Homo sapiens: one gene and its partners. The protein of the gene in region 1 purifies or fractionates together with the protein of each later gene. This does not show direct contact. Each region holds a gene or a part of one and is shown in the gene's direction. Other genes may lie near its edges.

What was found.
Region 2: the proteins of TSPAN2 (region 1) and HSDL1 purify together in Homo sapiens (co-immunoprecipitation; 3 studies listed by BioGRID and IntAct, with this or other methods). This does not show direct contact.
Region 3: the proteins of TSPAN2 (region 1) and MTCH1 purify together in Homo sapiens (affinity purification with mass spectrometry; 2 studies listed by BioGRID and IntAct, with this or other methods). This does not show direct contact.
Region 4: the proteins of TSPAN2 (region 1) and FAM241A purify together in Homo sapiens (affinity purification with mass spectrometry; 2 studies listed by BioGRID and IntAct, with this or other methods). This does not show direct contact.
Region 5: the proteins of TSPAN2 (region 1) and DAGLB purify together in Homo sapiens (affinity purification with mass spectrometry; 2 studies listed by BioGRID and IntAct, with this or other methods). This does not show direct contact.
Region 6: the proteins of TSPAN2 (region 1) and PTGFRN purify together in Homo sapiens (co-immunoprecipitation; 3 studies listed by BioGRID and IntAct, with this or other methods). This does not show direct contact.
Region 7: the proteins of TSPAN2 (region 1) and SNX14 purify together in Homo sapiens (co-immunoprecipitation; 3 studies listed by BioGRID and IntAct, with this or other methods). This does not show direct contact.

Annotation. Positions count from the first base shown.
Region 1 is NC_000001.11:115,051,504-115,055,003, reverse strand, and holds part of TSPAN2 (tetraspanin-2), read left to right. Parts: intron 1-1,541; coding exon 1,542-1,625; intron 1,626-3,500. UniProt on the Homo sapiens protein: May play a role in signalling in oligodendrocytes in the early stages of their terminal differentiation into myelin-forming glia and may also function in stabilizing the mature sheath.
Region 2 is NC_000016.10:84,135,178-84,138,677, reverse strand, and holds part of HSDL1 (inactive hydroxysteroid dehydrogenase-like protein 1), read left to right. Parts: intron 1-3,072; 5' UTR 3,073-3,134; intron 3,135-3,500.
Region 3 is NC_000006.12:36,976,197-36,979,696, reverse strand, and holds part of MTCH1 (mitochondrial carrier homolog 1), read left to right. Parts: intron 1-1,085; coding exon 1,086-1,192; intron 1,193-1,541; coding exon 1,542-1,619; intron 1,620-1,912; exon of another isoform or gene 1,913-2,005; coding exon 2,006-2,063; intron 2,064-2,446; coding exon 2,447-2,498; intron 2,499-3,500.
Region 4 is NC_000004.12:112,186,954-112,190,453, forward strand, and holds part of FAM241A (uncharacterized protein FAM241A), read left to right. Parts: 3' UTR 1-3,500.
Region 5 is NC_000007.14:6,427,455-6,430,954, reverse strand, and holds part of DAGLB (diacylglycerol lipase-beta), read left to right. Parts: intron 1-347; coding exon 348-475; intron 476-3,500.
Region 6 is NC_000001.11:116,912,916-116,916,415, forward strand, and holds part of PTGFRN (prostaglandin F2 receptor negative regulator precursor), read left to right. Parts: intron 1-3,500. UniProt on the Homo sapiens protein: Inhibits the binding of prostaglandin F2-alpha (PGF2-alpha) to its specific FP receptor, by decreasing the receptor number rather than the affinity constant. Functional coupling with the prostaglandin F2-alpha receptor seems to occur.
Region 7 is NC_000006.12:85,591,059-85,595,097, reverse strand, and holds the start of SNX14 (sorting nexin-14), read left to right. Parts: upstream 1-1,239; 5' UTR 1,240-1,379; coding exon 1,380-1,519; intron 1,520-1,997; exon of another isoform or gene 1,998-4,039. UniProt on the Homo sapiens protein: Plays a role in maintaining normal neuronal excitability and synaptic transmission. May be involved in several stages of intracellular trafficking. Required for autophagosome clearance, possibly by mediating the fusion of lysosomes with autophagosomes.

The DNA of each region.
Region 1 (3,500 bases):
ATTTATTTATTTATTTTGAGACAGAGTCTCACTCTGTTGCCCAGGCTGGAGTGTAGTGGCATGATCTCGGCTCACTGCAACCTCCACCTCCCAGGTTCAAGTGATCCTCCTGCCTCAGCCCCGCTAGTAGCTGGGATTACAGGTAGGTGCCACCATGCCCGGCTAATTTTTTTATTTTCAGTAGAGACGGGGTTTCACCATGTTGGCCAGGCTGGTCTCGATCTCCTGACCTTAGGTGATCCACGCATCTCGGCCTCCCAAGTGCTGGGATTACAGGCTTGAGCCACCGCGCCCAGCCATGAGGTTAACTTTCAACAGAGAAGGGCACCTCTTTGGCTCTGATCAGAGAAAAAGGAGTCAGGAGTGTGCTTGCTACCTACAGCAATGCCTGGCACTGAAGGAAGGGAGCATCTAAGTGTATAGGAGAAGGAGAGGAAGAGTGAAAGAATTGCTATAGGTTGACTCTCATTTTTTCCACTAAGTAAGGGAGCCACTCCTTAGAAGAGTAGTTTTCAAACTTTTGTCAGAATGCATTATAGGTATCTCTTGTGGATCTGTGTCCTCTAAACTGTGAATTCCCAGAAAGCAGGAGAAACCATATCCTATTGTCTCTGCATCTACCACCCCTCTTCCAGTGACTAATGCAAGGTAGATGCTCAAGAAATGTTTGTTGAATGAATGAAGTGTGATAGGAAATACGAAGAGAGAAGTAAGGGTTTTATATAGCTCAGATGGTATCAAAGGAACCAACCAGTGACAAGTGAACAGATCTGAACAACCTGAGGGTACAGTTGGATTGAGAGCATCCCTCTACTTAAGAGCACTCCAAATAGGAGTGTTTGAAGTTGGAGAAACTAATAATAGTTACAGGTGATCTATTTGGCTTTCTGTCTAAGTTTCCCCACATCCATGAAGGCCCTTTGAATCTATGCTGCACAGGTGTCTTATGGGCACAGATGAAAGGATAGGAACTCACCCAGCACAGCCCAGCCCAGCCACCACAGGAGAGAATGGTCCTCTAGCTCCAAGACTTGGCTTTTCTAATTCTTGGCTTTCCTTTGTTTAACTTGAACCTGTTAAGACTTTTTAGTTTCTTAATAGGTCATGCCTACTTTGCATAGTAAATTGGGTCAAAGACATAGAAAGTATTTTAAACTGTAAATGACAATATGAAAACAAAGAGTTATTGTTTTAAGGGTATTTTACTTATTTGCTACAAGTAAGAAGTGGCTCCAAATTTTTAGATTCCTTGGAACCAGACAAATAGCTTCCTCCAGTTATATTTCAGGGCTCCGAAGAAGCCACTGGCCTAAACATGAAAATCTCACCCAAAGGAGAGGCTTCTATTTTTTTCCCCAAACTGCATTTTTGCATTAAGCTTATTAGGATGATGTTATCAAAGATGAATTGTTGAAACATGAGTAGAAGCTGGCATGGATTAACTCTCACAGAATGAACTGTAGAGATGGAAAGGATAGGATCAGGATAATGACTGACACATACAATCAGTTTTTATTCCCGACTTTTTTTCCTCAAAACAGAATTGCATCGATGAAATTGAGACCATAATCAGTGTTAAGCTCCAGCTCATTGGAATTGTCGGTATTGGAATTGCAGGTCTGACGGTGAGAAAGTTCTAGAACTTACCCTTTTTGCCCTCTAAAAAGCCTTGAAACTTTGCATCTTATTTCTTTTCAAGTGTGATAGTATCTTAAGAGAGAATTCTCATAAAGAAAAAAGACCTTTGTTCACAATGTATTACATCTTCTAAGAACAAAGCTCATAAATATATTAATAGTTTGTCCTCTAAAATATAATAGAAATTTCAACTTTAACTCATTATGACCTTGAGTGTGTCATTGTTATTAACTTCCCGTTTTAAGGCTACTATCCATAACCTAGATAAATGATTTTCAGTTCTGGGTCTCTTTCTACTGTTACAAATTCAATGCAACATATCAGGTTAATCTCTCTCACCTACGATTTGAAGAGGCAGCAGAGCATAGAGATTAATAGGGCGAGCTCTGGCATCACATGGTTTGGATTTAACTCTAGGCTCCACCATTTGCAAGCTCTGAGATCGCAGGAAAATTTCTTAATTTTTCTATACCTCAATTTCCTCGTCTGTTAATATATAAACCTTATAGGATTGCCGTGAAAATTAAATGGGATACTACATATACAGTAGTATTACAAATTAATATAAATAAAGTGTCTGGGACATATAACACTCAACAAATGCCAGCTCTCTGCATAATCTACCAGGCAAAGGCAATGGCATAGATGGTATTAAGCGTAGTGCATCCAGACCACCACCAGGTGGCTCTGTACTTCTAAAGTACAAAAGAAGAGTGTGTGGGAAGAATGGATAGCAGCGGACAGGTATGGCAGGAGTTGCGAGAGGTGGTAATGGAGAGAGTATTCGATCTACATCATTGAGATCTTTGTATGCCCCTTTGAAAGGGTGGGCTTCACCCTTAAGGAAAGGGGAGTCACCAAGAGTTGGAAGAACCTGTGGTAGAGGATAGAGGAAAGGTTGGAGGGAGGCAAGATTGGATTTGGAAGGCGGGTTAAAGGATGATTTCCATTGTCCAGGGGTTGGATGATAATAGCTAATGCTAAGATGGCACTTAGTCTCTAGCCCTCTATGTAGATTAATTCATGGCCTAAACTAAGGCAAGGGCTGTGGGAATTGTGAGGAAATCAGTGAATTTGCAGTTATCAGGGGACACACAAGCGCCTTCCCCTTTTCTGTATTTAGAGCACAGAGGGGTGGAGAAGTGGCTGGAAATACTCTGCTGAGGCCCTCCAAATCAAGGGACATTTCTCAGGTCCTCCCCACCTGCTCTGGGGATAGCCTGGCTGCAGTTCTGCAGCTCCCCAAAGGACAGTCCTGAGGCAGGTCTGAGCGTGTGCTGCATAATGGAGAGTTTCACAATCTCAGCAAATGAGCAGCCTAGAAGCATTCACCCCTGACTCGTGTCGGCAGTAGGCTGAGACTGAAGGAGTCTCACTGAAACCAGGATGGGTAGGGATTACATCCAACCTTATGGCAATGATAAAGGGGAAATGCCCATAGTGAGCCTATCTTGAGTCGGCACCCCCAGGTTTCTTCGTTAGTTCTTTTCTCTGTAAAGTGAGAGTTGCACAATGTAATCAGCTAACTAAAAGTGCATTGGGTGTCGCCCGTGCTACACACTGGTACTGAGTCCTGTCATCCAGAAGCTTGAAATCCTGTTCCTGGCCATGCCCTTACCTGCTTCTGCCCCTCCCTTTTCAAAACAACTGATCATTCATATCTTATTGAATTTAGCACTTACAGATCCTAGTCTGACTTAGGATGGAATTGAGGAGAGAACCAGAAAGTTATAGTACCCATTTTTTAAAATAAGCATTGACAGTAGTTTATGGAATGGTGCCCACAGATAGGGTTCCATGGGCTCTACAAAATTGTAGGGGAAATAATAGCGGACAAGAAGACTCTTTGGCATTCTTCTATT
Region 2 (3,500 bases), on another chromosome or scaffold:
CTGCAGAGATGAGAAAACAAAGCTTAAAAATTTTTTTAAATTATTTTATATTTTTCCAACTTCATCGAAGTATAATTGACAAATAAAATTATATAAATTTAAGGTGTACAACATGATTTGATATATGTATACTTTGTGAAATGATCACCACAACCAAATTAGTTAACACATTCATCACCTCAGTTACTTTTTTATTTCTTTATGGTGAGAACACTTGAGATCTACCCTCTAAGCAGATTTTAAGCCTACAATTTGGTATTGCTCACTATGGTCACTGTACTGTACATTAGCTCTCCAGACGTATGCATTTTATATTTGAAAGTTTATACCCCTTTGACCAAAACTTCCCACCCATGACCCCACCTCTAGCAACCACCATTCTACTCTCTGTTTAAGAAAATAAAGCTTTAGAATAAGTTCTTGCAGGTAGATTGTACATGAATCAGAATTTTACTGTGTTTTAGTATTGCTTTCCACATCATGGGTTTCTCTAGGTTGCAGGCTGCCTTAGTTGGTTTTGAGCTGCTATAACAAAATACCATGAACTGGGTGGCTTGGAAACAGCAAACACTTACTTTTCGCAGTTTGGGAGGCTGAATGGTCCAAGATCAAGGTGGTGGAGCCCTCATTATCTGATCGCCTCCCAAAGGCCCTCCCTTCTAAACCATCACCTGGGGGGTTAAGATTCAAGACAAGAATCAGGGAGTGGGGCGGAACGCTCAGACCGTAGCACAGGTTAATAGCTTTCGCTAATCAAGCCACAAAACAGTAACTAGTCAGATACCTAAAGTAACTTTGACGAGGCTTGTTATCTACATATGCCTAAGTGGACTTCTAGGCTTAAATGTGTGATAAATTCCTTTGAAAGTTTCAGTGAGAGGCTATGAGCTTTTGAAATTTGGTGGCTCTGGGGAAAGTACTGATTTCTTTTGTCATGAGAAAAATGTTATTTTCCATCATGTACAGAAGGGTGGGGAAGAAGATTGAGAGCAGGGAATGAGTTTTAATTTCCAGTTCTCTAACATCTTTGGCCCATCAGGGTGTGAGTGAATGTGTGAAGTGTCTGGCAAGGCTGAGGAGCAGCAGAGGCCACAGAGCCTTGGCTCTCCGTGTGGCCCTCCTTCATCCCCAGCTGAGTAACCAGGGCTCAGGAGCCCCCCTCCTCCCCTGCTGCGTTACCTTCCTAAACAAGCCCCACCAGCTCCCTCCCTTGGTGCTCAAGGAGGAGGTCCATGCACTCCAGTCTGGCGTGAAGGCATCTCCAGTCTGCCTCTCCCAGTCTCCTTCACGCCTGTGCGCCTGCACACATGGGGCGTCACACAGGACAGCACAGCCTGTGCTGTGCATGCGGGGGACTTCCTAATGTTTCCCGAGTAGGCCAGACCCTTGACGGTGCCGAGCCTTTCTCCATGGGCCCGGGCCAGGGAGGTCCCTTCCCTCCTCTCTGCCCAGAAATTCTGCTCACACTTCAAGACCCATTTCACCCCAGTGGCGCCCTTGCCACCTCATGTTGCAGTTGCTCCGTTTATCTTTCTCTGACTTCTGTGTATACCGGGTGGCACGGAGTCCTGGTTTATTCATGATGGTGTCCTCAGTCTCTGACACTTTGTATTTTTCATTGCTGTTCTAGAAGTTTGGTTTTCCATGTAGATCTCGAGAGACTGTAGGACCAGTGACCGTGTGTGTTTAGGCCTCTTCGCTGTGTTGTTCACTATCCATTCCTAACTTGGCATTTGAATGTATCAGTCTTCTGTGGGTTTTGTGGATGTGAGTCAGATTTCTTTGTCTTGAGCTGCCTCTAAGGAATGAAGAACTTGGGTTTCTATCCATCAAGGCTGAGGACCAGACCTTGAATGCCATCAGCCCCCCTGATGCTCTGTGATTTTTAAAATATACATAGCAACAATAATATTAACACACGTTTAAGGTACTTGCACACGATGGCGCTCCCCTGACAAGAGGTGAGGGGTGTCTAGTGGGGGCGTTGAGAAGCTGGGCCATGATGGGCTTGAAGCCCCTCAGCCCCAGGTTCCTGTACTCACCTCTGCAGTGGGTGCATCTCCTCTGCTGGCCTGAGTGGGAGGTCCCTGGTGGGTTTAGCACACAAGCTTTTCTTTCTGTAAAGGATCAAAGGAATTTGTGGGTGGTCCGCTCCTGAGCTGAGGGCTGAGCGCTGGACAGGAAGACTGCCTGTGAGCTGCAGCCAGAGACTTGGTAGTGTTGAGCTTCTTTGTGCCAGGAATTGTGGAAGGTGCTGGAGAAACAGAGAGGAGTAGAATCTGGCCTCTGCCCTGGAGGACTATAGCCTGCTGGGGTGGTCAGAGACAGAACAGTTGCAATGCAGTGTGTGTGGTGGAGGAGAGGGAAAATGTGGACCAGGGGTTTCCTTTCATTTCCTCCTTAAAGCATCTGACCCACTCACAGCCTAGGGGGGCTGCCCCCAAACACTGTAGGACGCCTTCCTCCCTGCCACCCTGCCAGGAGATTAGACAGGTGGTGGGCACCTGAACTAAGGTGGGCGAGCCAGAATCCCTGCCAGGAATTTGGAAAGAGAAGCCAGGGCAGCCCGTGGCAATGTGGATGTTCCAGGGAACGCTGCAGGTGGAGCTGAAGAAGGGGTGTGCAGAGTGAGGCAGTGGGAGGCCCAGGTGAAACCCAGACAGGCACCAGGCAGAAAAAGGCACCGAGGACAGCTGTGGCTGCTCTCTTCCCCGATGCCGGCCTGGTGCCTGGGCGGTGTTTCCCCAAGGGCTCCTGGGATTGGAATGGGCTTTTGTCCCATTTGATGAAATGTTCCCTAGGAAAAAAGGCATAGGAAAAGGGGGCACCCTCCAGCTGTGCCTGAGGACGCATGGACTGTGCCCCCAGCAGACGCCAGGCGCTTTTCTTATTCTGAGAGGAGGGTACTTGGTGCCTAGTACATGGTTTGCTGCCTCTACAGAGATTCATGGCGTAAGAATTGTTGTGTTTTCTTAATTTTTGAGCACTTGGATGTTACTTTAATGTAAAGTTTTCCCAGCTGAACTATGAGGAAGAGGAAAGGCATTTGTTTCTTGTTGGTTTTATTCACAGATTGGCCTTAAGAGAAGGACGGAGCCACATACTGCTGACGGCCCAGAACTGGCAGAGAGAAGGTAAGAGACCCCAGGGCAGGGAACGACCACAGCAGAAAAACTGGGGCCCCCTTTGTGGTCAGGCGCCTTTTGCTAGACATTTACTTCAAAAAGGTTCAGATTCTTGAAAAAAATCGGGCTTAAGGAGGAAGCTTCCATCTGTGTGGGTTCCTCCATGAGGCATGCCTGACCTCCTTTTTGTAGCGAGAGCCTTACTCTATAGGCTTGGAGCAACTCATTTCCCCACAAATACTGCTTTGGCTACAACCCATTGATCTTGATATGTAGTATCTGTTTTTTCTTTCTTTTTTTTTTTTTCTTTTTTCTTTTTTGAGACGGAGTCTCCCTCTGTCGTCCAGGCTGGAGTGCAGTGGCGCGATCTTGGCT
Region 3 (3,500 bases), on another chromosome or scaffold:
CTTGCCAAGTCACCCAGCATCCCCTCCCCTCCTCCTCCTCTCCTTCCAGCCCACCCTCATCTCAGGCAATCACATATACAGGTAACAGGTGTTCTCAGCCTCATGAAAAACCCATGCTAGCTGTGACATTGAATTGCTGGGCTGGCAGACATCTGCGGAGGAGCAAAAGGCATATTTGCTTCTTCCTGCCTCTGCGCGGTGCCAGAGAGCTAAAGTCATGGTCTAACAGGGGGAGCATGCTGTCTGAGAGAATGTTCTGCTAGCTTCCAGATGCACAGGTTTATAAAAATACCACCCTGCCATTTAAAACATGTTTAAAATGTTGATAGAAAACAATGAATCGTATCCTTAGAAAGACAGACCCTAGTGAAAGAAACACTAACTCACACAGGTAGGGTCTAGCTTCCATAACATTTAAGTTTATTCTATGGAATTGTTCATTGGTGCTCCTGTTTTAGTTACTTCTCCATAGACTTGTTTTTCCCTTGACTAATCAATGCCATCTGGTGCCAGGTGGTATCCTGGGTGTAGCACAGTGACAGGGTGGAGACTGCCCTGGCCGTGGCATGTGCAGGGGGCGTTCTTGAGCCTGTCTTCTGGGAGCCCTTTCTTTTCCTTTTTCCCTCCTTTAGGTTGAAGACTTCATCATTCCCTGCGGGCAGTTTCTCTGTTTTTCCTATTTTCTTTTCCTCAAGAAAAATGTAATTTTTAAGTAACAGAATTGTTTTCTGTGTTGCAGCATTTAAGTTGCTGAGTTGAGAAATCATGGCTGAGTTTGCCAAGTAAAGTTTTTAAAGCAAAAAAAAAAAAAAAAAAAAAAAGGAGGGAGGGAGGGAAGGAAGGAAGAAAATATATGAACTTGTTTGTCAGAAATACATTTTGAGGCTTTTACTAAAAGAAATGGGCTAGAAGACATTTGGGGGTTAGGGCCTGACTGCTTCCAGGTCCTGGACAGATGTTACCTTCTGTGCCTGTAGTCAGCAGTTACCTGAAGGACAAGCCGAGCCTGGTCTGGGTGTGTGTGACCCAGGAGTGGGTGCCCCTGAACTGGGTGTGACTCCTCTGCCACCTCTGTTTTCTTACAGCCAAGTACATCGTGCAAGTGGATGGTAAGATAGGGCTGTTCCGAGGCCTGAGTCCCCGGCTGATGTCCAACGCCCTCTCTACTGTGACTCGGGGTAGCATGAAGAAGGTGAGCCCACACAAAGCCAGGAACAGTCGCCCGAGGTTTCCTCATACTCCCAGCCACCCCTGCAGCAGCCAGTTACCCTGGTCTTGCCTCCTCCTTCCCAGACCATTGGGGGCTTCACTCCAGCCCCATGGGGGAGCTCCCACCCCACAGTTCTGCTTTCCCACAGCTGTGACACCAGATAGTGGCTTTCTTTTCCCCCCAAGCTCCAGACCTGGAGGTTACCTGAGGTGGGCCCAGCCAATAGACACTGCAGAGGAAATATTTGGAGCTGGTTCCTGCCGCCCAAGTCCCCGAAGAGTTCCATGGAAGAGGCGTAGCTGAACTTGGTTCTTTCCCTTCTCTGTTTCAGGTTTTCCCTCCAGATGAGATTGAGCAGGTTTCCAACAAGGATGATATGAAGACTTCCCTGAAGAAAGTTGTGAAGGAGGTGGGTGTTGAGAGTTGGAGAGGGAGAGGTGCGTGGAGGGGAGCCTGATGATTTCTCACCCCCAAGTTGGGCGGGTCATTGACAAGTCGAAGAGTTGGGTCCTTGTGTATGCATGGGTGGGATGGTAAGGGAAGAAGCCCTGGCCTGGATGTGCCGGGAACCCCGGAAAGCCTTCTCAGCCATTGTTGGGCCTAGCCTGGGACCCGACAGCACTCCTGGGTGGGGGACTGGGGAGTGGGCAACAGGTGGAGCCATCCTTGGCAGACCGACCCCATGTGCAGTCCCTGGGACAGGTTTCTCCCTCCTGAGCACTTGTAGCTCCCCTCGAGGGCCAGTTCCAGAGACAGGCCGAGGGTGGCGAGTCCCCACCCCATGCTCTCTTCCAGACCTCCTACGAGATGATGATGCAGTGTGTGTCCCGCATGTTGGCCCACCCCCTGCATGGTAAGCCACCCCCCTTCCCCCGAGACTGTATCTAAGCTGGCGTCGGGGGCGTGGGGTGAGGGGCGCCCCCTCGTGGACTGTACATAGACAGCCGTAGACCTGTTGGGAAGTGGTAGTGGGGTTGGGGGTATTCTACTGGAACCCACCTCACTGAGGAGAGATTGGAATTCTTTCCAAAGGGAGGTGGGGCTCTTCCCAGGCAGTAGAAATGGCATGCTGTGGTCATGGGGTGTAACAGGGAATCCGAAAGGCCCTCTTCCTCTCCTGCTCTCTGAATAGGCCACGTTGTTCAGTGGCCACTCTGCACCTGGCACCCGGTGGCTGGAGCATTATGAAGTGTGGCCCACCACATCACCTGTGTGTGTTTTCTTTTTTTTCCTCAGTCATCTCAATGCGCTGCATGGTCCAGTTTGTGGGACGGGAGGCCAAGTACAGGTGGGTAACTCTTGGGACTGGCAGAGTGGCCCTGTTACCCTTTCAGAGTCGGCCAGGGCAGGCCGTGCTGGGATTGGTTGCTGCACCTTTTCTGCCCTAGTGCTGTGTGAGTTCAGCCTGCTGCCTGGCTTCTGAGGAATGTGGCAGTGGCTTCAATAGTCTGTCCAGGGTCATTTTCTCTTCGTCATCTCTTATCAAGGGCAGCCCTAGATGAGCCTAGATGCCTTTGCAGAGGGGTGAGTGGGATTGTAGTCAGCTTGGATTAGGATTTCTGGCCCCAGAGCTGATTCTGCCACTTAGGACTGAGCTGGGGTCTCCTTTTGGACTCCCGAAGTAATGCTCTAACGATTTTTCCGGCCCTCATAGGCTGATAGCTCTTTTTATCCCCTATGAAGAAGCCATCCACCCCATGGGCTTGGGGCTCATCCCTTCCATTGTGTACCAGACCCTCACCTAGATCTGCTGCGTGCAGCCCTGGGTAGGTGCCAGGGGCATATGTGTTGACACGGAGGTGGGTCTTGGAGGCATGTGTGAAGGACACACCTGGGTTGCCCTTCCTCTCTTAAGATTCTCATTTCCTGGGGTCGGTGTTTTTTGCAGCTGTCCTGCGGGGCCACCATCCCAGGAAGCTCAGCTGCCATGGTGCCTCATTTTGGGGTCATTAATGGGAAATTGGCCCATTCCCCTAGACTGATTATGAGGTTGGTAGTTGGGACCAGAAGGGTATAATCTGGCCACCACTGTTCTGAGTGGTGGGGCCGGGCCTGGCAGGGCTGGGATGATCTGGGACCGGGGCTACCCAGGGCTTTGCCTTCCACTGGCTCCCTCTGTTAGTAGGTTGTTATTGAGCTTCCTTGGCATTTCACACCCAAGAACCCACAGCCTGTCCTCTCATCCAGCTTGTCCTCTCATCTCTAACAGGGTGCAGTGGCCAGGGCATGAGTCCCCGGCTCCCTGCTGAGGAGTGCCAGATGTCTTCTCCTAGGCTGGTTCCAGTGCCTC
Region 4 (3,500 bases), on another chromosome or scaffold:
AATTGTTTGACATTTGGTAGCCATATATGTAATTGAAGAAGTTATATATTTCACTTTTTGACAACCGAAAAAGTTTGCCTTGTTTCAAATCATGTGCTGGCTGTTTTGTAAGTAAATTTATACATGGATGTCACTTAAAACTAAACTCTTGATCATAACAGGGTTGAATATATATTTTGAATATACATTAGCTTATTCAAAACTCTTGTTTCACTACTGTGATCTCTGTCTCCTTTATACACCTCTATCCCCATGCCAAATCTTAAGTAACACCACCAGAAAGTGAACAGGGAAAATAACAGGACATGGAATTCAAATCAAGCAATATAGTTCTTATAAAGAGTTCCAATAAAACATTTCAGAAGAAAAAGTATGAAACAAGCTAAAAGTAAGTTTCACTTAGAAAACTTCTCCCCACTCACACTCCCCACCAAATAATCTCATATTATTTGGGAAATATTTGGATTTCAATTGTCCCTACCCAGCCTAAACTAAGGTAAATGATAATTAGCATACACTACCTTAATATTGTGATGAAAATCAGTAAAGATAGAACGTTTTCTAAAGGTCAAAAATAATATATTTATTATTACTGGGGAAAGCTCCCAGGTTAAATATAACTTTTTTAAAATGTAACATTTGGACCTAGACCTACTTTAATATATCATTTGAAGTTTCAGACAATTTTGGTGCTAATTACTTTTTGTGAGTTTTTAAAGTCTCATAGCCTAGTTGACTGCACCCTATGGTAATGCCATATTTTCTTGTATCTAACAAGTTGCATATTTTTTCCTAGAGAGACATTTTCAGTGTATTTTTTTTTAGAAATTTATAATTTTATAGTTCTTTCATAACACTTATTCTGAGTTTTGAAACAATGTATTTCCTATCTTGACATGGATTTTTTCACAAAAAATTTGTATTTTACTGTTGTTTTCAGGAAAAAAATCAGATCATTTTTCTTTGATATCTATATCAGAAAGGTACAATATTAACAGTATAAAACCAAATGCTTAAATTTGGAACTTAGCCAATTTTGATAATCTTTTTCTAAGGCTAAAGTCACATCAGTAATTGGCTAGCCATGTTATTAAGGTGTCTTAATTCAGCATTTTCAGGTTTTATATTGAAATACGCATTTCTTTAAATATTCTTTGAAAATGGAGAATGGCTTTAGTGATATTTTGGGTTTTGTTAGAGAACCTAAAATCTTTACACTTTCATCTCAAAGATTATAAAGGAAAGGGGGGTAGTTAAGATTTAGAATTCAAGTTAAATTTCAGAAATTGGGGCAGTCAGGCATTTGTATCTTTGGTAGGGCAACAAGTAAAACATGTAGAGTGCTTGCTATCCCACTTCATAAAGCTTTTACCCAATCTTATTTCTAAACCTCTGTGCATTCTTAGTGTCTTCTCATTCTGAAACAGAAAATAAGGAAAAACATTTAACTTAGTTTTCTAAAATCAGATAATCCTAAACAAAAATGTTAGTCAGGGTCACTAAAAAGTATTGCACATTTATATAAATACAGTCCTTTTAAAATTTGACTTTTAAAAAACAAAAGACTTTGTACGATATTGTGTTTTTATTGCTTTTGCAATATTTTTATAGTAGCCTTTATGAACTCAGTATAAGTGCAAGTTGTTTGAAAAGGTGTTTTTATTAGTGCACAATAGAATTGTGAGGTTTTCAATAGATGTCATGAGATTTTGTATATCTACATAAAATATCAGTACATTTTTTTCTAATGCTACTGGAAATTTTACTTTTCCTTTGCAACACATAAATGATATGATGTACAAAATAACAGCTCTGGTTCCACCAGTACCTAATGTTGAAAACATTTTTAAAGTAATTTTTAATACTAACTATTTAGTATACTGTCAGTACTGTACATCTGCACACTGGTGTTAATAGGGTATATATTAAATTATATAAAGAAATAAGATATTTTGCTGTTATTCTTTCTACATATATTATTGGTCAGTACATCAAATAATATTTGGCTTTGATATGGGAAAAAACAAACTTTGCCTATGTAATGGAAATAAAATATTTTCTTTTATGAAATATATTAGAATGCAGATTATACTAATATCCTGAAATAAAACTGGTAATTTATTTGGTTCATGGTATAAAGAATTAGATTGGGCCGGGCGCGGTGGCTCACGCCTGTAATCCTAGCACTTTGGGAGGCTGAGGCGGGTGGATCACAAGGTCAGGAGATCGAGACCTTCCTGGCTAACATGGTGAAACCCCATCCCTACTAAAGGTACAAAAAATTAGCCGGGCCTGGTGGCAGGTGCCTGTCGTCCCAGCTACTCAGGAGGCTGAGGCAGGAGAATGGCGTGAACCCGGGAGGCAGAGCTTGCAGTGAGCACTCCAGCACTCTGGGTAACAGAGTGAGACCCCATCTCAAAAAAAAAAAAAAAAAAAAAAAAATTGGATTGAAAATGATTCTCATCATTTCAATCTCAAATACAAGCCAGTTTTAGAAACTGTTATTGCTTATGAATAAAGAAATAGAAGTTACAATGCTAAGGTTATTACATAATGCATACTCATATGGCCAGTAATTCAAAAGAAAAAGGTCGAAGTCTACAAATAAACAGACTGTAGATGAGTAAATCCATTTTTCTTAAAGTAAAAACTCTGTATTTTGTAGAATTCTGTCCTCTCATACCTTAAGCTGTCATGGGCAAGGTATTTTCCCATTCCTGGCTACAGGCAGATCATTCCTAGTCCAGTAGTGTGCTGGAGCAAGCTTGCACTGGCTTACAAGAGCCAACTGTGAACATTTTTTCTGCCTTCAGTGCTGTCAAGTTGGTAGTTTGAAATTGGCCATGGTGAGAGTATTTACACCAAAAAAATTAGTAAACACTGCAAATCAGATCTTTTTTTTTTTTTTTTCCTTGAAAGCCAGCTGTTAAACATACATCAGCACACCCTAGAGGCCACATTCCCATTTCTATTCCTACAGATACGAAAGTAAAGAACAGAACACATTTTGTGAAATAAAAGAAAGCATATGAGGTAAATCCCCATCGACCCACCCAAAACTGAATCTGGCTCTTTCCCTTGTGGGTATTATGGTTCATGGTTATCTTCTGACCAACAAATCTCTATTTAATCATGTTTTGACCACAGAAAATCTCTCTAGGCTGTCACCAAGCTGTAAATCCACTAAAGACTATCCAGGCAATCAGGAAAGGCAAAACTTACAGAATGATAGAGGAAAAATTACAGTATAAGTAAAGGTCTGTTGTAATATAGAAAGCTCAAAATAGTCAAAGCCAGGTTTGGAGCAATCAAAGGCTATTCGTGTGGTTCATAGATTGTTTTAATAGTTATTTTACAAATGTTTATTAATTTCAGGTGTTTAAAATGCTTTCATTACCAATTTATGGCTTTACAATTGAAGGGAGAAAAAAAAATGTAAGACGGCCAGGCGCGGTGGCTCATCCCTATAAAAGTGCTGGGACAGCACTTTGGGAGGCCGA
Region 5 (3,500 bases), on another chromosome or scaffold:
AAAATACAAAAATTAGCCGGGTGTGGTGGCGGGTGCCTGTAGTCTCAACGACTTGAGAGGCTGAGGCAGGGGAATTGCTTGAACCTGGGAGGCGGAGGTAGCAGTGAGCTGACATTGTGCCACTGCACTCCAGCCTGGTGACAGAGCGAGACTCTAAAAAAAAAAAAAAATGAGGAGTCCATGTCATCCTTATTGAAGGAGCAGTTTTGCCTGTGGGCGTCTGAGAGTTCTATTCAACGAAGGAGCAGGAAGAGTCAGGAATGAGTTCAGGTTTCAGGTCTCAGTGTGTTGATCCTCTGTGTCAGGAGTTCCCTTAATAAACAGTAGTTTTTGTCCTTCTCTTGTAGGAAGCTGATCTGGATGCAGAATTAGAAAACTGCCATCATTACATGCAGTTTGCAGCAGCGGCCTATGGGTGGCCCCTCTACATCTACAGAAACCCCCTCACGGGGCTGTGCAGGATTGGTGGTGACTGGTGGGTTGGCACAGTCTGAGCCTCCATAGCCATATTTCCCTTAAAAAAAAAAGCTATTTTGAGATATTTCAAAAATTTGAAAGAACAGTGCAAAGAACTCCCATGAATCCTTTACCTAGAGTCACCAGCTGTGACTCATCTGGTCACATGCGCTGTATCTCTCTCTCTCTCTCTCTCCCTCCCTCCCTCCCCCCTGCATATATATATATATATATATATATATATATATGCACATGTATTTTTTTTCCCCGAACCATTTTATTTTTCTCTTTTTGAGACAGAGTTTCACCCTTGCTGCCCAGGCTGGAGTGCAGTGGCGTGATCTCAGCTCACCACAACCTCCGTCTCCCAGGCTCAAGCGGTGCTACTGGCTCAGCCTCCTGAGTAGTTGGAATTACAGGTGCCCGCCACCATGCCCGGCTAATTTTCATTTTTTGAGATGGAGTTTCACTCTGTTGCCCAGGCTGGAGTGCAGTGGCACAATCTCGGCTCACTGCAAGCTCCGCCTCCCTGGTTCACGCCATTCTCCTGCCTCAGCCTCCCGAGTAACTGGGACTACAGGCGCCCGCCACCACTGCTGGCTAATTTTTTGTATTTTTAGTAGAGATGGGGTTTCACCGTGTTAGCCAGGATGGTCTCGATCTCCTGACCTCGTGATCCGTCTGCCTCGGCCTCCCAAAGTGCTGGGATTACAAACATGAGCCACCACGCCCGGCCACACCCGGCTAATTTTCTATTTTTAGTAGAGACGGGGTTTCACTATGTTGGCCAGGCTGGTCTGGAACTCCTGACCTTGTGGTTCACCTGCCTCACCCTCCCAAAGTACTGAGATTACAGGCGTCAGCCACCAGGCCCGGTCTCAGGTAATTTTTGTATGTTTAGTAGAGACAGGATTTCCCCATGTTGACCGGGCTGGTCTCAAACTCCTGACCTCAAGTGATCTGCCTGCCTCAGCCTCCCAGAGTTCTGGGATTACAAGGTGTGAGCCACTGTGCCCAGCCCCAGTAATACCCTTTTTAGCAATTTTTTTCTCCAATCCAGGATGATGCGTTACATCTAGTTGCTGTGTCTCTTTGGTCTCCTTCAAGTTTTAAGTTTCTCAGCCGTTCTTTCCTTTCATGATATTGACATTTTGAAGAGGACAGTGCAGATATTTTGTAGAAGGGCCTTCAATTTGCATTTGTGTGATGGTTTCCCCATGATTAGATTTATGTTTTGCATTTTTGGCGGGAATGGTCCATGACAACCATCCTTCCTAGTGTATCATATCAGGGGATACATGATGCCAGTTTGTCCCATTTCTGGTTATATTAACATTGATTGCTTGGCTGAGGTGGTGACTGCCAGCCTTGAGACCATTTAAATATCTTGTCCCAGGCCGGGCGTGGTGGCTCAGACCTGTAATCCCAGCATTTTGGGAGGTCGAGGCCAGCGGATCACTTGAGCTCAGGAGTTTGAGACCAGCCTGGGCAACCTGGCAAAACTCCATCTCACTAAAAATATAAAAATTAGCTGGGTGTAACAGTGTGTACCTGTAGTCCCAGGTGCTTGGGAGGCTGAGGCAGGAGAAACACTTGAGCCCAGGAGGCTGAGGTTGCAGTGAGCTGGGGTTGCACCACTGTACTCCAGCCTGAGTGACAGAGCAAGACGCTGTCTTAAAAAATAAATTAAATAAATATATATGTCTATATCCCACCAGGTGCAGTGGCTCATGCCTATAATCCCAGCACTTTGGGAGGCCAAGGCGGGCTGATCACCTGAGGTCAGGAGTTCAAGACCATCCTGACCAACACGGTGACACCCCGTCTCTACTAAAAATACAGAAATTAGCTGGACATGGTTGCACACACCTGTAATCACAGCTACTCGGGAGGTTGAGGCAGGAGAATCGCTTGAACCAGGGAGTTGGAGGTTGCAGTGAGTGGAGATCACACCATTGCCCTGCAGCCTAAGCAACAGAGCAAGATTCTGTCTCAAAAAGAAAAAAAAAAAAGAAACCAAAACAAAACAAAAAACAAGTAAGTAAATGTCCTATCCCTCTCTGAATTCTCATCTGGCAGTACAGCATCCATTGATTCTTGTCTGAATCACTTATTACCAGGATGGTGGCAAAATCATGATTTTTCTTTTTCTTTCTTTCTTTCTTTTTTTTTTTTTTTTTTTTGAGACAGAGTCTCAGGATCCTGGCTCACTGCAACCTCCATCTCCCAGGTTCAAGTGATTCTCCTGCCTCAGCCTCCCGAGTAGCTGGGATTACAGGCCTGCACCACCATACTCGGCTAGTTTTTTGTAATTTTAATAGAGACAGGTTTTCGCTGTGTTGGCCAGGCTGGTCGAACTCCTGACCTCAGGTGATCCACTCGCCTTGGCCTCCCAAAGTGGTTGGATTACAGGCATGAGCCACCGCACCTGGCCAAAATTGTGATTTTTCTAAATTCATCATTTCTTCTACATTAATTGTCATTCTCCTATAAAAAAGAGCTTTTTATCCCTACATCTTACTGTCAATATGGATTTATAGATTCTTAAATTATTCAGTGGGTTGTAATTATGACTGTTTATTTTGTATTAAGTACAGTGTTTATTTGATGCTCAAAATGTTCCAGATTTTGTCCTGCAGACTGGCTCCAGTGTTCTTTTCATATGACCCCATCATGTTCTGAGCACTTCCTAACCTCTGGATTTTGCTTTTTCTTTTTTTGGGACTGTTGCCCAGGCTAGAGTATAGTGGTATCATCACGGCTTACTGTAACACCATACCCTCAACCTCCTGGGCTCAAGTGATTCACCTGCCTCGGTCTCCCAAAGTCCTGGGATTACAGGTGTAAGCCACCACGCCTATGTATTTATTTTAAAGATCATGAGATTTTACTAATATCTTTTTTTTGTTTGTCTTTTAAGAGACGGGGTTCTCTCACCTCAGCCTCCCAAGTAGCTGGGACTACAGGCATGCACTGCCAGACCCAGATAATTTTTAAAAATGTTTTAAATTAATAAATTTCTTTTTAGAGACAGTTTTGCTTTG
Region 6 (3,500 bases), 1.9 Mb from region 1:
CCTAAGCCTACCTACCATGATCACACCAGAACCCACCCAGCCACATAGAGCAGGTTTCACATCCATTGCCTATGTCTGACCTGTCTTGCCCATCCACTCAATGTGGCATTTCTTGAGTGGCCACTCTGTGTGCAACTGTGTGTTCAATACTGGGAGTCCCAGACAAATGACAAAGACACAGCATCTCCCTGAGCGGCTGGTGGGTGTGAGTAGACAGAGAATAAAATAGCTAACCACAGGACTGAATGAAATACCTGACATGGAAACCAAGTGTGGGAAACAAGGAAGGGGATGATTAATTTTGACTTGGGGGTTGGGGCTGGTTTTGCTGAAGAAGTGACATTTGAGTTGAGCCTTGAGGATAATTAGAATTTTGAAAGAAAGGATAGAAGAGCATTCTGGGCTCTGGGGAAAAGCCTAAAGTGTGGATGAGTGAAAGTACATGGCTCATTGAGAAATGGCACGTAAGTTCCCTGTAGCTGGAGCTGGGAGGAGGAGGAAATAATGGGGGTGCAATTATTTGGGGGAGGAGGAAATAATGGGGGAGGAAAGGTGGGTTTGGGATAGATCCTGTAGGTTTTGCATGCTGTGCTAAGGAGTCTGGACTGGGAGGGGTAGATTTGTTGGTGCTCTGGGTGCTGCCAGCCAGTCTGTGCCCTGTCATCAGAGCATATATTTCCTTCATTGTATGTAATTGTTCCCTACTCTGATTGTTTCCCCTGGGGGCAGGGGCCACGTTGATTTTGTTCACTACAATGTCCCTATTACGAATAGGATATATAACTCATACTGGTTGTTTGATACATATTGGCTGACTGAATACTTACATATGTCATTTTATCTGTGGGAATGGGTAGCCATTAAAAGTTTGTAGGGCGAGATTAACAGGACAGGGTAATGTGTTGAGGAGGATAAACCCTCAACTAGTGCAACATAAATTGGAGAGTAGAAGGCATGGAGATTGTAGGGTGGGATTAACACATTCTCTTTATGTCTTTATTTTTGCAAATCTATTGAGATACTTTTTTAAGTGTCAAAAGCATTACATCTGTATTTTAAAATTCAAATGATATAAAAGGACTTTGTATTAATCAGGTAGGCTAAACTGCTCTAACAAACTCAAAGCATAGTGGTTCAGACAATAGATGTGTCTTATATAACAATGCGAGGGAGATGCTTCAGAGGAAAGGGTTGGGTGGGAACCCTGCTTTACACAGTCATTCTGGCTCCCCAGCTGGTGGCAGTTCTGCTGTCTTCAACTCACAGTTTCTAAGATCACTTTGGTAGTCGTCATCACCATTCCAGCCCCTACAAAGGAGGAAAGAGCGTAGAGTAGAATATTTGGAGTCTTTGTGGGTCAGACTTGAAAGTGGCACACATCATTTCTGCACACGTTCTATTGGAGAGACTTTGGGCCCATGCCACACTAGCTGTAAGGAAAGCTGGGAAGCCATGTGCCAGCTACTATGGAAGAAGGGAAAGACAGATTTTGAGGGAACAGCTAACAGTCTCTGTGTTACTTACAAAGGATATAAGGTCAAAAGAAAAATCTGGGCTAAACAGGTCAGCTCATGCCTGCAATCCCAGCACTTTGGGAGGCCAAGGTGGGAGGATTGCTTGAGATCAGGAGATCGAGACCGGCCTGTGCAACATAGTGAGACCCCCATCTCTACTAAAAAATAAGAAAAGTTAGCCGGGTATGGTGGCATGTGCCTGTGGTTCCAGCTACTTGGGAGGCTGAGTGGGGAGGATCACTTGAGTCTGGGAGGTCAAGGCTGTAGGGGACCGTGATCGCACCACTGCACTCCAGCTTGGGTAACAAAGCGAGACCCTGTCTCAAAAAAAAAAAAGGAAAAAAATGTGTCCACCCTCCTGCCCAGGCACAGCCACTCCTGCCTAACGTGTGTGTGTCTCTGCATACTGAGTATTTTGTTTTTTTTTCCTCATAGCTTCTGTACAAGGCTCTGCACCTAATAGGCACAGACTAATAATAGCTACTATTTCTCGATTGCATATCAAGCGTCAGGCTCTGACGTACATTCTGGTATTTATTCCTCACAACAATACTTTGAGAAAGTCACTATTTTGTCTTTATTACAGATAAGGAAACTGATGCCCAGAAAAGTTAGTTAACTTGTCTAGAGACATACAGATTCTTCCTAGCAGACCTAGGATCTGATCTCAGGACTCCATTCTGTCTCTGCTAAGGAAAAGTTTACTAATGTTCGCTAAACCTTATGCTGCGTATTGCTTGAGATTAGCTTAGGTGAAGAAAGATGATAGTGGTTTGAAAGTGAAAGTGCATTTAAAAATAGGAGGATCCAGGGTTAGTGCAGCCCAGGTACACTTCCTGAAGGGAAGGGCAGTGCCAGCATGCACCTCAGAGGTGTGGCATCTCTGCAACCCTAGCAGGTGGCCATGCCGGCTCTGAGGACGGGCCGAAATGCAACTGCCTCTGGAAAGCACTGAAGGAGGAGGAAGGCCAGTGGGAGGAACCCTAGTGAATCCATCCAGCTTTAACAGTCTTTGAAGTGCTGTGGCCTTCAGAGATTCCTTGGCACTTATTTTAGCCTTGTTAACAGAATTCCTGTATCTGCCAAGCTGATTAATGCCTGCCCTGGCTATAATTATTCTTATTAGCCTGCTGAATAGGAACTCTAGTTGTCAGTGATCATTCCTTACAAGGCAGCAGGCTAGTCGGCATTTATGTGGCTGTTTTGTTTTAGCGATGAGCTGCTGAGCTGATTTTCCCCCCGTAGATTGAATGTACATTTTCATATTGGCACTGCGTCTGGCAGTTAAATAAGGTGTGTGCTTGTCTGTCGATGTGTGTCTGCGTCTCACTTTATCAAATGAAGTTGGAAGGATGCTGTCCAGGCAGTTCATAGCTGTTTTGTTTAATTGCATTGGTTTCTTAAAGGCAGGGTTGCAAGGGTCATTTGACTCTGCTTTGGGAAAATAACTTGAACTGGCAAAAATTCTTCATAATTTATCTTCTGGAAAAGGTGAAGTGCTGCAGTTGGCACAGTCAGTGGTTTTTTCGATCTTGGACTATTTCTCCCCACACCAACTGTAGTCTTTGGGAAGCAACAGAATTAGACCCAGAAGTTAACACTGTCGTGTCCCAGCAATATGCGTTTCCAGTAGGCTGGAGATCATGGCTCTGTGCATTCGCTTGTGTTCTTTGAAGGCTGATTTCTCCACAATACTCTGTATTGTGTCACTAAGCAGCATGATTCAAGTTTAAGTAAAATGTTCTGGGACCTTAATTGCATCCTGTTTCACACCTTTACAAGCAGCTGGAATGTGAAAATATTTACCTCACTTGGGATATTTCATAGGAGTGGAGAAGAACCCGTGGCTACTGTTGCTCTGTCTAGGATGAATTTGGCTTAGAATAGCGAAGAGTGGAATTGTGCCTAAGGGTTCCGGGCACATTTCAGAGTGGGTGCTACCTTGGAATCCTAATGAAATAGAGATAGTGGGCAGACAGATGAGTT
Region 7 (4,039 bases), on another chromosome or scaffold:
CATAGGTTTATCATCAAGGATGGTAATATCAATGGACTTTAGTGGTTAGCAATAATGGAACAGGATGGTACATTCTGATAAAGGATAATAATGCATCATTAAAGATCCATGTTTTTGTAATACGGGAAAATATTCATGAAACTACATACATCATTAAAAAACATTTGTTTCCCCACTTTGAAGGATAAGATCCTAGGAAAGAGAGATGACAGGCACAGGCTCTGTCTTTAGAACGTGTTCAAATTCCGGCTTTGTTAGTTTTATGATCCTAAGTTCCTTTCTGTCTCAGTAATTTGCCTGTATAATGATTGAAACTATAGTACTGTACCTACACCATGGGGTGAATGCATGAAGGTCAAATGAAAGTGCTTAGTGTCTGTACCGCCTAAGTAAATTTTCGCGATAATAGTCTTCCTGCATCTCTCACTGTAGCGGACAATACAGAAAAAAAAATTTAGAAATGTGATGAATTAGTAAAGGGAAAACCCCATGAGACTCTATAAGAGGGATTTTACCTAATCTGCCAACCTGCCTCTTCCAAGCACTCGGATTTTGGTTGGGCTCCCGGAGCCGGCGTGAATTGAGCTCTACCCTTGCCCGTGAGCGCGCAAAAGAGATTTTGTTGGTGGGGTGGCGGCCTGATGAGTTGTAGTCTTTATTCTAGGGCTGTTTTACTCGCCACCCCCCCAGCCCCCAACACACCCCTTTTAAAATACCGACTCAAAGGCGTCCTCCTATCCCCCTCTCCCTTAGGCGTCACGCAAAGCTCGGACCTGCTCCCACCCGGAGCCGAGTGTACGGTGAGGCGCGGAGCGTTGCGGGGTCGGGGAAGCGCTACCACCCGCTCCATCCCTCTGCGGGTTCGTGTCACGAAGACTACAGTTCCCAGCGGGCTCCACGAGCTCCGGTTGCCCCTCAGGCAGCGCCCGGCGGCTACGGGGGTGCTGTAGTTTCTTCCGGGCTCCCTACAACCTTCTTCCCTCTCCTCCGCAATACAGGCAGTTACTGGGTGCTGGGGCTGTCCTTTGATTTCCGGAAATGGCCGGTCGCCAGTGTTGTCAGAGTTTCCACGGAAGACTGCGCGCTACTCCGGCCAGGAGGGCGGAGCGGCGAGACGCTAGAGGCTTTGCGCTGGGTGACGACTTCGGGCACGTTCTACGGCCGTTCCTCTGGTCGGCTGGGGACCGCGGCCGCGCACGCGCGGCGGGGGGCGTGGGGCTGGGCCCAGCCGGACGCGACCTCAGCCTGCGGCGGCTAACTGCCGGTAGGCGTCTGTGTGCGCCGCCAAGTCGGTGGGGCGGGGACGCGAGGTGTGGATGGGGGGTCGCCTTGACCTCTGCCTCAGCCAGTAGCGCAGTCTCGGCCTCGCCGTTACGGAGATGGTGCCCTGGGTGCGGACGATGGGGCAGAAGCTGAAGCAGCGGCTGCGACTGGACGTGGGACGCGAGATCTGCCGCCAGTACCCGCTGTTCTGCTTCCTGCTGCTCTGTCTCAGCGCCGCCTCCCTGCTTCTTAACAGGTAACGCCGCAGCGCGGAGCCTGGGCGGCGGCTTTTCTCCGAAGGTGCAGACGCCCGGCCCGTGCTGCTTAACCGTGCGGAGGCCGCGTAGCTGCGGGACTGGGGACCAGTGGGGAGAGCGAGCTCCGCAGAGGAGCGGCCTCGGGGAGCACGGCGGAGCGTCGAGGCCGGAAGCACAGGCCGGTGGGGTGGGGTTGATTGCCTCCTTTCCCGAGGCTTCGTCTCCTGAGCTACCTTTTTCTCATCCATTTCTCAAAACGAGTTCTTCATCTTCGTTGCTTTTCAAAAGTGAAATCCGTGTGTCGGCTCAAATTGAGACTGTACACAGGCAGTCAAGTCAGCTGACGGAGGAGTGTTCAAGGTCCAGTTCGTAGCCGCAATTTTAGGCAGAATCCGCACACCTGCAGCGCGTTCTTCCATCTCCCCACCTCCCACCCCCTCAGCTTGCAGCTGAAGCTTTTCCCGCAGTATTGTTGAATAAAACAGACGATCATAAAGATTTGTTGGACAGAAATCAGAAAGCAAAGTGGTACCCGTCCCAACATCCTTAGAATTTTTTATTTTTGAGACGGAGTCTCGCTCTGTCACCCAGGCTGGAGTGCAGTGGTGCGGTCTCGGCTCACCGCAAGCTCCTCCTCCCGGGTTCACGCCATTCTCCTGCCTCAGCCTCCCGAGTAGCTGGGGCTACAGGCGCCCGCCACCACGCCACCACGCTACCACGCTAATTTTTTTGTATTTTTTTTTTTTTTTTTTAGTAGAGACGGGGTTTCACCGTTTTAGCCAGGATGGTCTCGATCTCCTGACCTCGTGAGCCGCCTGCCTCGGCCTCCCGAAGTGCTGGGATTACAGGCGTGAGCCACCGCACCCGGCCACATCCCTATAATATTCTTAAGAGGACTTGATGCCACCCTCCCCAAAAAAACCTGAAATATTCCGAAAGGTTAAAATTGATAAATTCAATTGACATTTTGAAATCAGAAGATTCTGCCCCCGAAATAAACTTGTTTTACTTCATTTTACTATTTCAAGAAATTGTTGCGATGCAATAGGTAGTAGAGGAGACTTTTCCATTAAAATTAACACCAGATTTGCTTTTGGTGGAAAGAAATCTGAGATAGTTCTCATTGACAGCATCCGCAAGCTGTTTTCTCTGATGTTTTGAACAGGCAACCATTCTTACTCTTTATCTTAAGGTAGTTGATTCCCAAGGATAGCAACAGGGAGGAATGCGCAAGGAATTTGGTAACTTCATTTTTCTCTGGTGTAACCATTATTTGTGACTATGTTGAAGTTAGATTTCTTCCCTAAAAGTGGCCTTGCTTTCTTGTTGATTCTTGGTTTAAATATTATTGAGCTTAAATAGTAGTTGATGTTTTACTGAGAAGTGTGCTCTGTGATGGTGAGATGTTTGAACTGTAGGAGTGTGGGAGAAGTGGGATCCTTAACAGAGGGAACACTAATTATTATTTGCTTTCTGTCATCTGGAAGGTATTCCAAGCTAGACTAACAGGTTTAGTATGAAAGAAATGTAAGCTTCATATGATTTTTATTTTTATTTTTATTTTTGAGACGGAGTCTCACTCTCTTGCCCAGGCTGGAGTGCAGTGATGCGGTCTCGGCTCACTGCAACAGCCACCTTCCAGGTTCAAGTGATTCTCATGCCTCAGCCTGCAGAATAGCTGGGACTACAGGTGGGCACCACCATGCCCGGCTACTTTTTTTACATTTTTAATAGAGACGGGGGTTTCACCATGTTGGCCAGGCTGGTCTCGAACTCCTGATCTCAAGTGATCCACCTACCTCAGCCTCCCAAAGTGCTGGGATTACAGGCGTGAGCGACTGCACGCAGCCCATATGATTAACTTTTGTCCATGGATTCTTACCTACCTCTTTTGGGAACTGGGTCAGTTTAGGTTTCTAAGGTAGGAGAGCCATCTAGTAGGAGCAGGTTAAACTAGATTTCTGAGGTCATCTACTTATGGTCATAACATTTAGTGTTGTGTGTTATTAAAAAGTCATAGGATGCCATCTGATCTGTATACCATCTAACCTGTACCCTGTATTTCTTTTATGCAGAGAAGGTAGGAAATACAGGTAAATGTTACCTGAGTGGTTGGGTTTATGAGTGAAGCTGTTTTTGCATATGTTTTGGTGTTTTCCATTTGTTACTGCTGTAGTCAGCAAAAGTGATTTTAAACACTAGAACTGTCTTGAATAAAACCATGATTATGTATCCCTTTTCCAGGAAAAATCTTTTGGAAGGTGCCAGATGGTGTATGTAGCATGCTTTTCAGTGTATATGTGTGATTAAAAAAAAAAAAACTTATGTGTGTATTCACGTACACACACACACACACAGATGATAAGAGTATCTCTGAAATGTTGTTATACAAGAAAACATGGGCCCTTCTGAGATGGGGTATACTAGGTACATCTATTCTGAAATAAAAAATAATTTTATATGAAGTTGATCCTTGAACAGTGCAGAGATTAGGGCCACTGACCCCTATGAAGTCAGAA